2 linked regions of the Homo sapiens genome follow. Each later gene encodes a partner of the first gene's protein in a complex. Each region holds a gene or a part of one and is shown on either strand. Other genes may lie near its edges.

Region 1 (6,855 bases):
AACTCTGACGAAAGACTTGAATCCTTTATTGAGGAATATAAAAAGTGGAATACTACATCCCGTTGGCTGGCATAAATATGACTAACTTTACTTTTCCCCTTTAAGTATCAAAAGATGTAGCCTTAAGTCAAAAATGGATTAGGGTAACAGAATCTTTTCCTAATTAGTTTCAGAACTTTCTAAATGCTCCAAAGAAGCTTATCCAAAAAAAAAAAAAAAAAAAAAAAAAAAAAAAAAAAAAGGCCGGGCACCGTGGCTTACGGCTGTAATCCCACCACTTTGGGAGGCTGAGGCCGGCGGATCACCTGAGGTCAGGAGTTCGACATCAGTTTGGCCATATGGCGAAATTTCGTCTCTATTAAAAATACAAAAATTAGCCAGACATGGTGGCATGCGCCTGTAATCCCAGCTACTAGAGAGGCTGAAGCAGGAGAATCTCTTGAACCCGGGAGGCGGAGGTTGCAGTGAGCCGAGATCACGCCACTGCACTCCAGCCTGGGCAACAAGGCGAGACTCCATCTCTGGGGTGGGGGGAAGGAAAAAAAAAAAAACCTCTGAATTGTCCAGAGTGACTGTCAACATATGAACCAAATCTTTTTTTCTTGATATTCAACAAAGTTGTCAAAATTCTTTTTTTTTTTTTTTTGAGACAGAGTCTCGCTCTGTCACCCAGGCTGGAGTGCAGCGGCACGATCTCGGCTCACTGCAACCTCCGCCTCCTGGGTTCAAGCGATTCTTCTGCCTCAGCCTCCCAAGTAGCTAGGATTATAGGCGCGTGCCACCGCGTCCGGCTTATTTTTGTATTTTTAGTAGAGACAGGGTTTCACCAGGTTGGCCAGGTTGGTCTCGAACTCCTGACCTCAGGTGATCCGCCCACCTCAGCCTCTCAAAGTGCTGGGATTACAGGTGTGAGCCACTGCGCCCGGCCGGTTGTTAAAATTCTAAGGGTCAATTAAGGGTTATATGAGAAATCTATAACAAGTTTTGCCTAATAACACTTCCCATCTCAACATTTTCATCAAGGTCCACCTTTAAGAATAAACACCTAAGTTCAATTAAGACAAGTGAGGAGGAGGTATTAACTTACATTTTAAAAAAGTCATTGTCCTGTATATTTTACAGACTGTAAAACTTAATTTTTAAATAGAATACTATACTGGCCACCAACAAAAAATGTTTAAGGGAAGCTCTATTGATTTTGTTTTGCCTCACTGTTGTACTTCCAAAGTCTCCACTATAAAAGCAGTGCGTTAATATTAAGTGGCAAGCCTATGGAAGAAGATACATTGTTGGAATATAGGCTCTTAATCACACCTATAATACACAGGATTCCTTTCCTTTCTCTCTGACCCAAGTTCTCATTAAGTGACCCAAAGACTCTTCTGCATCACTATGCTTTCTCTAATCAGAAGCTGGGCTGTGCACTGAAATAAAAACATTCTAACCAATACATTTTTCAAATTATTACTATAGTACTCGTTTAAACACCTGTATTCAAAGCTTCTCACTAATCATCTAGCTTTATCAAGTAACACACACAAGTTAATATACACTATGACTGCCTTGGTAGCCGCAGTTTGACTAAATTCTGGGACACCACCTCAACTTGGAAGGGACAGAACTATATCCGGTTCTCATTAGATACACATTTTCTCATGCTTTCCATCTTAAAGACTTTACACTTTCCCAGAGGAGCAATAAATGTAGGAAGACGCCAGGTAGTATGCCTGTAAGGAAGATAAGTGATCAGATTAAATTCCTACCCAAGAAACCTGAAACTTCAAAAACTTTTCCTAACAAACCACAGATGAAAAGGACAAAGTATGATTTACCCCTTCATTTCCACTTCTTTTCTGGAGCCAGCTTCCCAAATTCCTGAACAGCAGTCTTAACTTACTGGTTAGTTGGAGGAGCGGTCAACGGTATGGCCACCTCTTCCTCCTCGTATTCTGGTCCATCCAGAGAGTCACCTTCGTCCACTGTCCCGAGGCCCGCCCCCAAAGGGGGCAGGTAAGGGGGAGGGGGCAGAGGGGGAAAACCGCCGCCTGGCCCGAGAGTCTCAGCAAGCAACGAAGTGGGCAGTTTGGTGAGAGCCATGTCTCCACTAGGTCCAGCAACAGCAGCACCGGCCACGCCAGCAGCAGCACCAGCTACGCCAGCAGCAGTACCTCCCCCTGTCAGTCCAGCTCCCCCCAGTGCCCCTGCCACAGACCCGGCTCCTAGGAACTCTGACCCCAAAGCGGCTCCGCCACCCAGAGTTCCAGCCACTCCGGTCTCCACCAGCCCAGGATAGGGGGCGGCTGCCACAGGCAGGGCCGCGGGTATCTTCACCCGACACACTGCGGGATAGGCACTGGAGCCCGCTGCCGCGCCGCCTCCTCCAGCTCCGGCTGTTACCGGGCCGCCCTCCTCACTGCCGGCCTCGGCCGCCATCATGTTGAAGCCCGCTCTACTCTGCCCTACCCTGCCCGCCCGGGAGCCCCAGGGGCCACCAGGCCCGGGCTCCGAGCAGCCCCACCCAGACGCGTCTCCCCTTCAGCTCCCCAGGCTGAGGAAACAACAACAAAAGGAGAGAGCCCGCCGCCGCGCCCCCTCCTAGGGCCACAGCCCAGGCTCCCCAGCTGCCTGGGTTACGGGAAGCCAAGTGGGCAAAAAACCCAACGCCTGCACAAACGCCACCCAAACCTCACCGCACACACCCACACTCACGCACACAAACACATGTACAGAAGCGAAAACTTCCTCGCTGCACTAAAGAGGAAAGGAAGCACAGGGAAAGAGGCTGAGGCTGCTACCGCTCCTTCAGCCGCCACCACCGCTTCTTCACCACCCCAGTTCCGGCCACCCACACCGCAGCCACCGCCGGTGCCGCTGCTGAGGCTGGGGCCACTGCAGCCGCTTCATCCTCCACCAGGCAGATGAGAGGGGTGGGGGGGCAAGAGAAAGGGGGGCGGGGTAACGAGGAAATCGACTGAACTGCTCACTACCTGGAGCTCTCAGTGAGTGAAACGGGAGAGAGAGAAAGGAAGGCGGGGCAGGGGAGGAGGGACGGAGGGAAGGAAGGGCGGAGAAGGGAGAGGGCAGCTTGTGCGCAGGCGCGTTCCCGGAGCGGGGGCGGGGGGCCGGGCCGGGAGGAAAAGGAAGAGTCCAGAGGGAAGGAAGCGGCGGGGACGCGCGGTGCGTGGTCGCGCTTGCTGTCCTCCTCCGGTTCCAAGCGTGTGGCGGCGCGGCCGCATCTCCTGTTGGCGTGGCCGGCGGCGCGCGCCTGTCTCCCGGGGCTTTGTTTGATGGGCGGGAGAAGAGGGAAGGGTACCTGAGCACGCGGGTGCTTGGCGCTGTTAAAGCCGGAGAGACCAGAGGGGGACCAGGAGGCGGTGGAGAGGAAGGAGGGGGAAAGGGAAAGGAAAATGCCCAGAAACTAGTTCCGTACTTCCTGACCAGTGGAAAAAACAGCCTTAACCAGCAGCGCAGAAACCGGGCAGGGGTCAGGTAGCTTTGAAGATCGGGGCAGTACTATTAATGTTTTCTTTTTCGTTGCATGCTATAAATCACTATGACTATCTCACACACACACAGTTAAAATAGATTCTGAAACTCCAAAACGAAATAAAGGGCACCATATGAGAAGGGTGAAGAATTTGAGTAGAAATAGTGGTTATGAAGTAAGATTTCTACCAGTATTTGCATACGTTTTTCTTTATCAACTGTCTCATATACTTACCTATGCCATTATAAGTCTGTTGGATACTGATGAAGAGGAGGAGGTGCCACAGAAAACACTAATCAATGCACTTTTGTCCTGGTTTGTGTGCAAAAGACTGCAGGACGTGATCCACAATGCAAGCACCTTCAACAAGTCAAATGTCAAGAATGTCCCAGAATGCTAGTTATAATTATATATCGTTTCAAAAGTAGCAATAAACTGAAAACTCATTTTTAATACAATTAAGGAGAAGGGTGTTATTTTGTCTTTTACACTAAAATGTATACAAACTATGCATTCATGTAGAGGGAGCTTCCCATGGTTTGAAATTAACAATATTGTTAAATTCTCCCAGGAGTGATCCCACATTAAATACCATTGGATATTGATCTTTGAGATCAATATTTTCTGTGCTAAGGATGATCAAACTAACACTCAGGATGGCAAGTGGCTGTGATAGAAACCCAGGAAAAAGAGAAAAGACCACTAAAAGACGTGACAAGATACAGGCAATGCATTGCCTTTGTAAGTTTGCACAGGCCTATTTACCTAGTCAATGACAACAATCCAACTTGATTAGGAGTAGTCCTGGGGCCTCCATTACGCATATCTCTTAGCAGTGTGCTACCTGGGAGAAGGAAGATGGACCAGTCACAGGAGCTAGAGTTCTCAAAGTGAATTCAGGCCGCAACATCCTAGGAATTCAGAAATGCCACCTCAGACCTTCTGAATCAGAAAATATGCAGCGATCCATTTTAACAAACCCTCCAAGTGATTGTTTGCACACTTAAGTTTGAGAACCACTATATTAATGTATAGTATACTAATCAAGAAGGAGGTATGCAATACCTAAAAACGGTTCTGAAAGAAATAATAAATGTCATTCATTAGGTGGGTAGGTAAAATAGGCGGGTTTTGAGTTGCCAAGCTCTGTGCTGTTCTAGAAATGAGAATGAAGTAGTTCCATAATACTTAATAATGAAGTACTACTTATGGTGGCCTCCCTGAGAACAGTTTTCTTTTAAACTTAGACCCTCAGTTAGACAAGACTATCAAAATACCTACTCTACTTACTGTCTGCTGTGTGAACACCAAGTGCAACAATCCCAACAAATCTTAATATAGCCTGTGCTTGAAAACCTCCAGTGTGTTAGCATCCCAATCCTCCAACATTCCTGTCCCAGTCACCACTGTCAGCCCTTGAATGCAGGACATTGAACTGGCAGGTTATCACCGGCTCTTGGTTATCACTGATTTCTAAATGTTCACACACCCTCTGTATGTTGCCTGGGAGTCCAGGTGAGGCTCACTACTCTTACTGCAGAATTACCTCCTCCTTTTTGACAATTCTTTAGCACTTGTAAAGGTCAATATTTAATGCAGTCTAACACCTATCAAATGCTCAATTAAATGTTTTCTAGACTTTTAGGTGTATGTACCTACAAAACTGTACTGCAAATACAACCTGTGGTCTATTCTACTGCCTAGCCCAGTCCTAGGCAACCTCAGTATGCTACTTTGAACAGATCTTCATCCTTTTAACAAATACCAAATTTGATCAGCTCCCATCTTTGGAAATCAATTTCTTAACCAGTAGGAAATAACTACTATGTCTATTTGTAAATCAGCCTTATACCAATATCTTACCTAGTTTTTGTTTAGCCTTAGAGTTAGCCCTGTTCTTTTCCTCCAAAGAAATTGCCACATATTTTTATGAGGTATTTTCAGATATTTAATATATTCCTATTATTGGATAGATCTAGGCTCTAATCTTTACTATTGCTTGTGTACTTTCTGAATCTCAAATACGTTGTCTATCTTTATTTTCATTTTTTCCAAAAGGATTTAATGTTTCTACTTAATTTTTGTCCATTGCCTTTCTTTTCTACCCACCTTAACTTTCTGCCCAGTTAACAAAGGGAAGTAAACTATCTTAATTAAATTCACAGATATTAAACAGGGAGGTATTGAAAAACAGAATAGTACACAAAAGAAAGAAAATTCAAAATATATTTTACCTTTAGTAAAATAAGCTATTATATCTGTGATTTTAGAAAAGTTACTCTGGATCTTGAAACATAGTATTTAATGAAGACTAAATAATAAAAAGTGCTGGACAAAAACTTGTGTATGAAAAGAAACTGAAAATTTAAGAAATGAAGTTGGCTCATTCTGGTTTCATTGGCAACTGAAATATGAATGTGGCCGGGTGCGGTGGCTCACGCCTGTAATCCTAGCACTTTGGAAGGCCGAGGCGGGCAGATCACAAGGTCAGGAGATCGAGACAATCCTGGCTAACACTCCAGCCTGGGTGACAGAGCAAGACTCTGTCTCAAAAAAAAAAAAAAGAAAAAGAAATATGAATGTACTACGTTCCAAAATATTTTATAGTTTTGATATCTTGAGTATGTGGAAAGGTAATTCTAACTCAGTAACATAACTGTAATTTTAGAGGACCTTAGAGCATAGGTAAGAATAGTTTCTGATGGGAGGACTAACCAAGAAGTAATAAAGAGCTTACTGCTGTGTTTGAAGAATGCCAAATTGTGTTCCATGCCCTAGTACATATTGAGTTACACAAATAGCCTTCCAAATTTACCTAAATAGTATCAAAAGGTTTCATTGACCCAATAATTTTGAAAGAAAGCCTTTACTTCTAACCCTAATGTCCCCACTGCATTTATTGACTTTATCTTAAAACCCTCCAGAGCACAAATTTTTTTATTACAAAGATCTTATGAGAAAATAACATCGAGGAGATACAGGTTAAAGGAAATACTTTGATGAAAAGGCAAATAACTCTGCAGAGATTACAATATGTGGTATAATAACTAAGATTTATGAAAATTATAAATACCATAGAGAAATTGAAGAACTGTGTGATGATCTCTGAGGCTGTAAAATAAATTACAAGGTAAATTATCCAGAGCTCTCTCAAAACATTCAAACCAATATATGAGTAAAGAAGATTAGAACAGTTAGATCTAAATATCTCTTAAAATATAAAATAATAGAAAAATATATTTTTTTTTTTTACTTTATTCCTATTTTGTCTTTATATTGCAGATACTTCATTATTTTTTGTCAGAACCTTTCCTCCTTCATGATTTCTAGTCTCTTTTTCTTTACCTATTATTTTACTCTGACCAGGC
Region 2 (7,024 bases), on another chromosome or scaffold:
TGAAACCCCGTCTCTAGTAAAAATACAAAAATTAGCAGGCGTGGTGGTGGGCACCTGTAATCCCAGCTACTTGGGAGGCTGAGGCAGGAGAATCGCTTAAACCTGGGAGGCAGAGGTTGCAGTGAGCTGAGATCACGCCACTGCACTCCAGCCTGGGCAACAGAGCGAGACTCCATTTCAAAAAAAGAAAAAAAGAAAGTGCCCTTGAGGTGGAACCCTTAAAATAAACCTTGGATTCAGAGAGATGAAGCTGCTCATAGCCCAATAACTAGCTCCCAGGACTTTTTTAGTCATTTCTGATAGACAGATGTTACCAAGACACTGCTCTTATCAAGTCACACTCTCAAGGCCACAGATTTGCCAGGTTTCATTCCTCCTCATTAGGCTGCCCGGGAGAGCTCCTGGAGCTCTGTCCCTTCCAGCCCTGCGGCCTCCCTTCCCCACAGGCTCCTGCGAGTAGACTGGCTCCCAGGTGCCCTTATTTTGTGTCCAGCTGTGAACTCTTCATTTAATTGCCAGGTGTCACCGAATGAAGGAGGCACTGTCCACAGCCCCTTTTACAGACAAGGAGACTCACCCTAAGGTGTCACTTGCCCAAGGTGACACGGTTGACGCGAGAGGCCGGATTTGTACCAGGGCCATCTGAGTCAGGATCTGGACTCCAGACCACCACAGGACCTTCCTCCCTGCTCAGCGTGCCCGTCATTGGCATTCTGTCTGCTCTTCCAAGTCTCACTCTCACCAGGGTGCTTGTGCAACTCCCCCAACTCTGACCCTCTGGGTACGTCACCTGCTGCAAGGTGACTAGGAAGCTATGGGTTTCCCAAAGAATGCTTGCTTCAGGGCTGGGCGCGGTGACTCACGCCTGTAATCCCAGCACTTTGGGAGGCTCAGGTGGGTGGATCACGAGGTCAGGAGATCGAGACCATCCTAGCTAACACGGTGAAACCCCGTCTCTACTAAAAATACGAAAAAATTAGCCGGCGTGGTGGCGGGCACCTGTAATCCCAGCTACTTGGGAGGCTGAGGCAGGAGAATGGTGTGAACTCAGGAGGCGGAGCTTGCAGTGAGCCGACATCGCACCACTGCACTCCAGCCTGGGTGACAGAGTGAGACTCCGTCTCAAAAAAAAAAAGAAAAAAGAAAGAAAAGAATACTTGGTTCAGGGAGTCCGCACCCCTCCCGGATTCATCAGCAGAATGGCACACATATGTCTCCGGCCGAGACGGTCTGGCACCATCATCTATCCCAAAGGAGCCCGAGCCCCCGGGCCCATTAGCAATCATCTGCGCTTTAACAGGCCTCTCTTCACCACCCCCACAGCCGCCAGCTGTGAGGTCGCTGCCATCTCCTTCGTGAGACCCTCCTGTGGTTCTTCTGAGCCCTGGAGTCCACGAAGGAAACATGGGGGCATCTTTCCCTGCACAGAGAAATCTGTCTTAGCCAGCTGGGCTCCAGGTGGGCTCTGGGACGTTTGTGCCTCACCAGCCCCGATGCCCTTCCCAGTCAAGGTGGGCCACACCCACTCGGGGATGGCAAGCCCAGTGGCCACAGCTCAGGCCCCACAGCCAGTCCCAGCTCTGCAACTTCTAAACTCAGATACTTCATCCTCAAAATGGGGTGACGAGTTCCTGCCTCACACGATTGTGGGGACTCATGGAACTGGGCCTGGCGCGGGTTACAAGCTGCATTCCAGGCAGTTGTTTTCCCTCCCCCAGGACATTAGGATTCCATGATAGGCAAAGTGTGGGCGTTGGGGGAAAAGGGGGTGCGTAGTTCCTTTGGTGAAGTGCATAAGAATTCCCCCACTGTTTCCATCAGCCCCTCCAACGGGGATGTGTGGACGGTCCCTGTGTCTCTAGGAAAAGGACAGAGCCTTGGTCTCATGACCGACTGACTCCCTCCCTCGAAGGCCTGTTGGCGTGGGTGGGTGGCAGCGGCCGCCCGTCTCCATCTGGTCAGGAAGCAAGCAGGCTTTCTGCGTAGGGATGCCTGTCTCCAGGGGCAACCGGATGAGCAAAGAATGGTGTTCTTTATGGCGGAGTGTCTCCAGATTGTTCTGTCTTGGGTGGTGGGGGCCAGGAAGCCCCAGGCACACAGTGCCGCCCTTCAGCGGGGGCCTGGGACACAGAGGTGGGCCAGACCCCTGGGCCAGTGCCACTGCCAGGTGTGCCAGCCTTGGGCACAGGCTTTGGGGGAAAGAGTGGGGTTAGTGTCATCCAAAAGCCCTGGGCTGTCCTCAGAGAAGGCCCATCACAGAGCACGCCCTGGGGTGGCCACCAGCCTCGGCCATGAAAGGCAAGGCTTTGGTTTTCTCTCTCCTCAGAAATCAACGACCGGGAGCAGAAGTTGCATGCCCTTAAGGAGGTATTAAAGAAATTTCCAAAGGAAAACCACGAAGTCTTCAAGTATGTCATCTCTCACCTAAACAAGTAAGTCGCAGGGCCTTCTGGTTGGTTTTTCCTCCTGAAAATTGACAGCCAGGGTCAGTGTGTCGCAGAACAAGGCTCTGTCCACAAGCCAGTAGAAGCCTCAGGCCCTGGCCTGGAAGGGGTGCTGGCTGGCCTCCCATGGTGCCCGCTGGTCTCGGTGCCCAGAGCCTCTGCCTCTCGCCCATCCTCAGGCCTCCCTCCTGCTCCTGTCTGAGGGCAGCCCACGTGGCCTCAAACCTGCCTAACACCAGATAGGGCACTTAGCTCCAGCGGGCATGGGGCCTCTTGTAGGCCTGTGTCCCAAAGCTGGCAGAGAGAGAAGATCTTCTGGTTGGTACTGATGCTCCAGAAATCTTCTCCTGAATCAAAAACACCTCAGAGTCCCTGAAAGTCCTCTCACAGCATTCACGTTCCCAGCTGGGGAGAACCGGGACACTGCACCTCGAGAGATGTGCTGCAGGAGACAGCCAGCCTCCGGCATGGAGCACAGCCGCAGGCGGGAGGCCGTATGGTTGTTCCCTGAAGTTCCATGTGTGTGGAGGAGATCTGCTGGCCGAGTGGCCTCTGATGGCGCTCTGGCTTAGGACACTCAGCCTCCCTCCCTCGTCACAGCCGGAGCACCGCCACTGCTTTGGCTGGCTGCAGAGTGAGTCCCTGAGGTGGTCCATCCACCCCCAGGGGTTTGCGGGGCTCCAGGCAGCCTTTCCGAGGTTGGCCATGTAGAGGCACTGGGCTGGAGGGGAGAGGACACTGAGGGCGCAGCCTCCCAGGCAGGGCAGGGTACAGAGAGCTGCGCATGGCCTTTTCTGCTCCACCTGAGGGAAGAAAGGTGGGCTCAGCCTGGGTGCTGAAGACCATGAGCGCCCAGGGCCAGGTGGGGCCCTGCACAGTTCTGACCATTGAGTTTGGTGTCGCCCGCAGGGTCAGCCACAACAACAAGGTGAATCTCATGACCAGCGAGAACCTCTCCATCTGCTTCTGGCCCACCTTGATGAGACCTGATTTCAGCACTATGGACGCCCTCACAGCCACGCGCACCTACCAGACAATCATTGAACTCTTTATCCAGCAGTGCCCCTTCTTCTTCTACAATCGGCCCATCACCGAGCCCCCCGGCGCCAGGCCCAGCTCCCCCTCTGCCGTGGCTTCCACCGTCCCCTTCCTCACTTCCACGCCTGTCACAAGTCAGCCGTCGCCCCCACAGTCGCCTCCACCCACCCCCCAGTCCCCAATGCAGCCACTGCTTCCCTCCCAGCTTCAAGCCGAACACACGCTGTGAGCCACCAAGACCTGGGGCGACAGGAGAACCGGTCCTCTCTCTGACGGGGTGGCATTTGGCCTTGAACAAAACCAAGTCCACTGGGGACAGAGGCAGGGGCAAGTGGCTCTCCCCATTACCTTCTCAAGACCTCAGTGGGAGCACCAGCCAATGGTACCATCGGCTGGGCTGCCAGGTACCCTGGGCCTGGCGCTGCAGACCTGAGCTGGCTTGGACCCATTTGAGGACTGAACTAGGCAGGCAATGGCTCCAGTGCCCTCCCTCTGTTCCCTGGACCACCACCCCACGTAGCTGCTCACACCAGCCTCCGGGTGCCTCCCTCTGCTTGTACAGAGCCCATGGTCGGGACAGTGCCCTGGCCTTTGCCGGGGAGGAGGATGCTCTGAGATTCAGGGTGGGGCTGGCAACCCCTGAAGAGAACACTTCCTGTTGGTCTGTCTCTTCCCACCTTCCATCTGCACACACCCCCAAGGTAAGGGTACAGCCCGGCTGGCGGCCTCCTTGGGAACGTGTAGGCCACGGCTCTGCCACCACTAGGTACCTGCTGAGGGCGCTGGCTCTGCAGATCAGAACAACGGAGGATAGCTTTGTGCCTGGACCCAGAGAGTGTGGGACTCCCCGCTTCATCCCCACCGTCCCACTCCACAGCCTTCCCGAAACATTCCCTGGCAAACAAAGGAACACTAGGAGAAAAAATGGAAAAACCCTTCCAGTAATTAAAAAGGAAGAAACCACAGAAAGAAAACTACAGACCTCAAGATTCCACTCTGTGCCCGCCTCTGCCGGGAGGGAGGGAGGCACACAGGTGGAGCTGACCCTCGTCTTTGTGGCAGCAAAACCAGGATGCCTGGAGCTGTGGCCTGAGGGCCTGCTGGGGTCCCACTCACCCACTTAGGTCTAGTCGCTAGATCCCCCGTTTTCCCAAGAAGAGGGTTCGAGCCCTTGGTGGGGACAGCTGGGGAGATGGCAGTGCAGGCTGGAACCTGGGCTGCCCCAGAACACAGTCCATTACGATAGAAACACTAATTGAGCATGTGCGTGGGGTGGGGGTGTGTGTGCACATGTGAGTGTGAGTGTGTGTGGGCGCTTGGTGGGGGGTTGGGGACAGCTGGAAGGTGCCAGGTGCACTTGGGGTTGGGGTTGGTGTGTTGGGTGTTGAAGTGGAATCGTTTCATCCCAGCCATGGAGGCCACCAGCAGGAGTGTTCATGGGGATGTGGGCGAGGTGGGGCACTTTGAAGGAATGGCGGTCTGCTGGTGCCCTCGAAGGGGCATCCTTCCTGGTCTTCGCTGACCCAGAGGCGCTGTGCCTGCATATCATCCACCACCACCCTAGCCCAGCCTTCCCACTGCCCCAGGAAAAGCTCTTCTCCTGGCCACCTCTGCCCCCCAGCACCTCAAACTTGCATGGCTGGGCTGTGGCCTCTGCGGCCAGGAAGCCTGACACTAGGCACCCCCCAGGCGAGAGCTAGTGGGGTGCAGAGGGCCCCATGCCAGACAGCCCTTGGGGCTCGTTGCACTTTAAGAAATAGGATCTGTGGTGTATTCCAGGGGGCCTGATGGACACCTTTCCCGGGCGTCTGCAGCTGCCCTGCCCGTGCCCGCCTGCAGTGGTTGGAGACGGGAGTGGCCCTTCGGCTCCCGAGCTCCCTCTGGGGACGGCTGGCTCACTGTCTCCAGTTCTCAATGGCCAACGAAGGTGCTTGGAAACACCTAACCTTGCAAGTTTTACCGCCTTTTGAGGAACACAAATCGGAGAACAAACCCAGGGTTCAGGCGTGTTTTCTGTGAATGTTGGATGATGAATTTTTGTCTCTTCTGGTGGAGCTGTGCCTGGCCCTGTAGGCCCAGGGTTGGCTGGAAGGTGACATCTGTGTTTCGTTTTAGCTGAGGTTGGCAGAAACGTTCCCAAACTCCCCCAGCCCTGGACCCCAGCAGATGAGGAAACGGCCCCATTTACTGACCCCGCCCCCTTTTCGAGGTTATGCTCACCTGGTCAGCTCCTCACGTAATTGGGGGTGGAGGGAAAGCATGGTGGTGCCCTGGGCCGTCCCTGTGTGAACGCAGGCAAAAGCAGCCCAGTCCCCCTCACTGCTTGAGCTAACACTGCCACCTCTTTTGTGTGAGCACAAAAGCCACGTCCCAAGCCACCTGGCCCGATTCCACAGATGTATGTGCGGCCAGTGACTTCCCCAGGAGTGTGGAGGGGGTGGTGAGGAGGAGCACCTGGGCTCTCTACCCCTCTCCTCACAGAAGTACCTGAAACTAGGTCTGGGGCACTCCCAATGCAGCGCCTTGTCAGCCAAGGTGGGCAGGCAGGGACTGTGGCAGCTTATGTCCAAAGGGAGCCCCCATGCACAGGAAGCCACAGGGTTCCTCTTGTTTCCCCCGCTAACTTCAGCCTCTCATCTGCTGCTCCGGGCTGAGGGACTAGAGGACATCTCGGTCGTTTGAGGGGCATGGCCAGTCGTGGCAGGCCGGCCTTCAGCGTCCGGTCAGGGAAGCGTGCAGCCCAAATGGGCACTTGCATGGGAGCCACAGAGGAGCGTCCCTGGGGATTGTTGGGACCATGCTGCCCCCACTCCCGCTTTTGTTGGGGCTCTAAGTTCTGGAAGGTGTGTGCACAGAGGGTGCTCATGGGACTCGCATGCAGCTCTCAGCACTGGGTGGGAGGGCGTTGGCTTGTCCAGAATGGGGACGTGGGGCAGCCACCCCTGCCCAGCGAGAGCGCAGACACCGTGTGAGGGGACAGCAGCCCTTGGTGCAAAGCCAGAGACTGATCCTGGCTCTGACGGCTGAAGAGGGAAGACCCAAGGCTGGGTGGCGTGGCTCGTGAATCCACTTAGAATTCTTGGCTTGTGTCGCATACTGGGTGTCACGGCACACATTTACTCTGCATTGTCCCCGTCTTTCCCATCGCCTAGCGTTTGGGGAGGAACAGGGAGAGAGCTTCGGGGCGTCTGTCTCCGTGCTCTCCTGCCTCCACCGCCTTGGTTTTGCTTCCTGCTGGAGGCAGGGCACCTGCTGCGACCCAGATTCTTCTGCAGGATGTGTCTGTCTTTGTCACGGTGGACAGAGGGTGACATCATAGGAGCAGCTCGCTGGCCAGAAGGGGATGGGGGCATCCCTGTGCCTCACTCAGCTCCTGCTGCTCTTAGGGAAAGGAGGCCTGGGTCAAGCCAGCATCCCCTTGGTAAAGACCCCCGCAGGCCACCAGGCATTCTGGACACGCACACACACACACACACACACACACACACACAAAACTTCACAGCAGGCCAGCTGCAGTGACTTGTCATCAAGAGTCACCTCAG

Evidence for each region.
Region 2: the proteins of RASA1 (region 1) and ARHGAP35 are in contact, whole or in part, in a crystal structure (PDB 8DGQ), measured with the Homo sapiens proteins. Residues at the interface, in NP_002881.1 of Homo sapiens: Arg188, Arg207, Ser209, Arg211, Val217, Asn228, His229, Phe230, Arg231, Ile241, Gly242, Tyr256, Leu262, Leu263, Lys264, Lys358, Ser379, Asp380, Asn381, Ser387, Gln397, Arg398, Phe399, Lys400, Met411, Gly412, Gly413, Arg414, His425, Tyr426; in NP_004482.4 of Homo sapiens: Ser1085, Asp1086, Tyr1087, Ala1088, Glu1089, Pro1090, Met1091, Asp1092, Ala1093, Val1094, Val1095, Arg1098, Glu1100, Asn1103, Ile1104, Tyr1105, Ser1106, Val1107, Pro1108, His1109.

What each region holds. Positions count from the first base shown.
Region 1 is NC_000005.10:87,264,033-87,270,887, reverse strand, and holds the start of RASA1 (ras GTPase-activating protein 1), read right to left. Parts: upstream 3,006-6,855; 5' UTR 2,437-3,005; coding exon 1,898-2,436; exon of another isoform or gene 1,841-1,897; coding exon of another isoform or gene 1,833-1,840; intron 1-1,832. UniProt on the Homo sapiens protein: Inhibitory regulator of the Ras-cyclic AMP pathway. Stimulates the GTPase of normal but not oncogenic Ras p21; this stimulation may be further increased in the presence of NCK1.
Region 2 is NC_000019.10:46,996,978-47,004,001, forward strand, and holds part of ARHGAP35 (rho GTPase-activating protein 35), read left to right. Parts: intron 1-519; exon of another isoform or gene 520-781; intron 782-2,326; coding exon 2,327-2,432; intron 2,433-2,849; coding exon of another isoform or gene 2,850-2,955; exon of another isoform or gene 2,956-3,096; intron 3,097-3,353; coding exon 3,354-3,711; 3' UTR 3,712-7,024.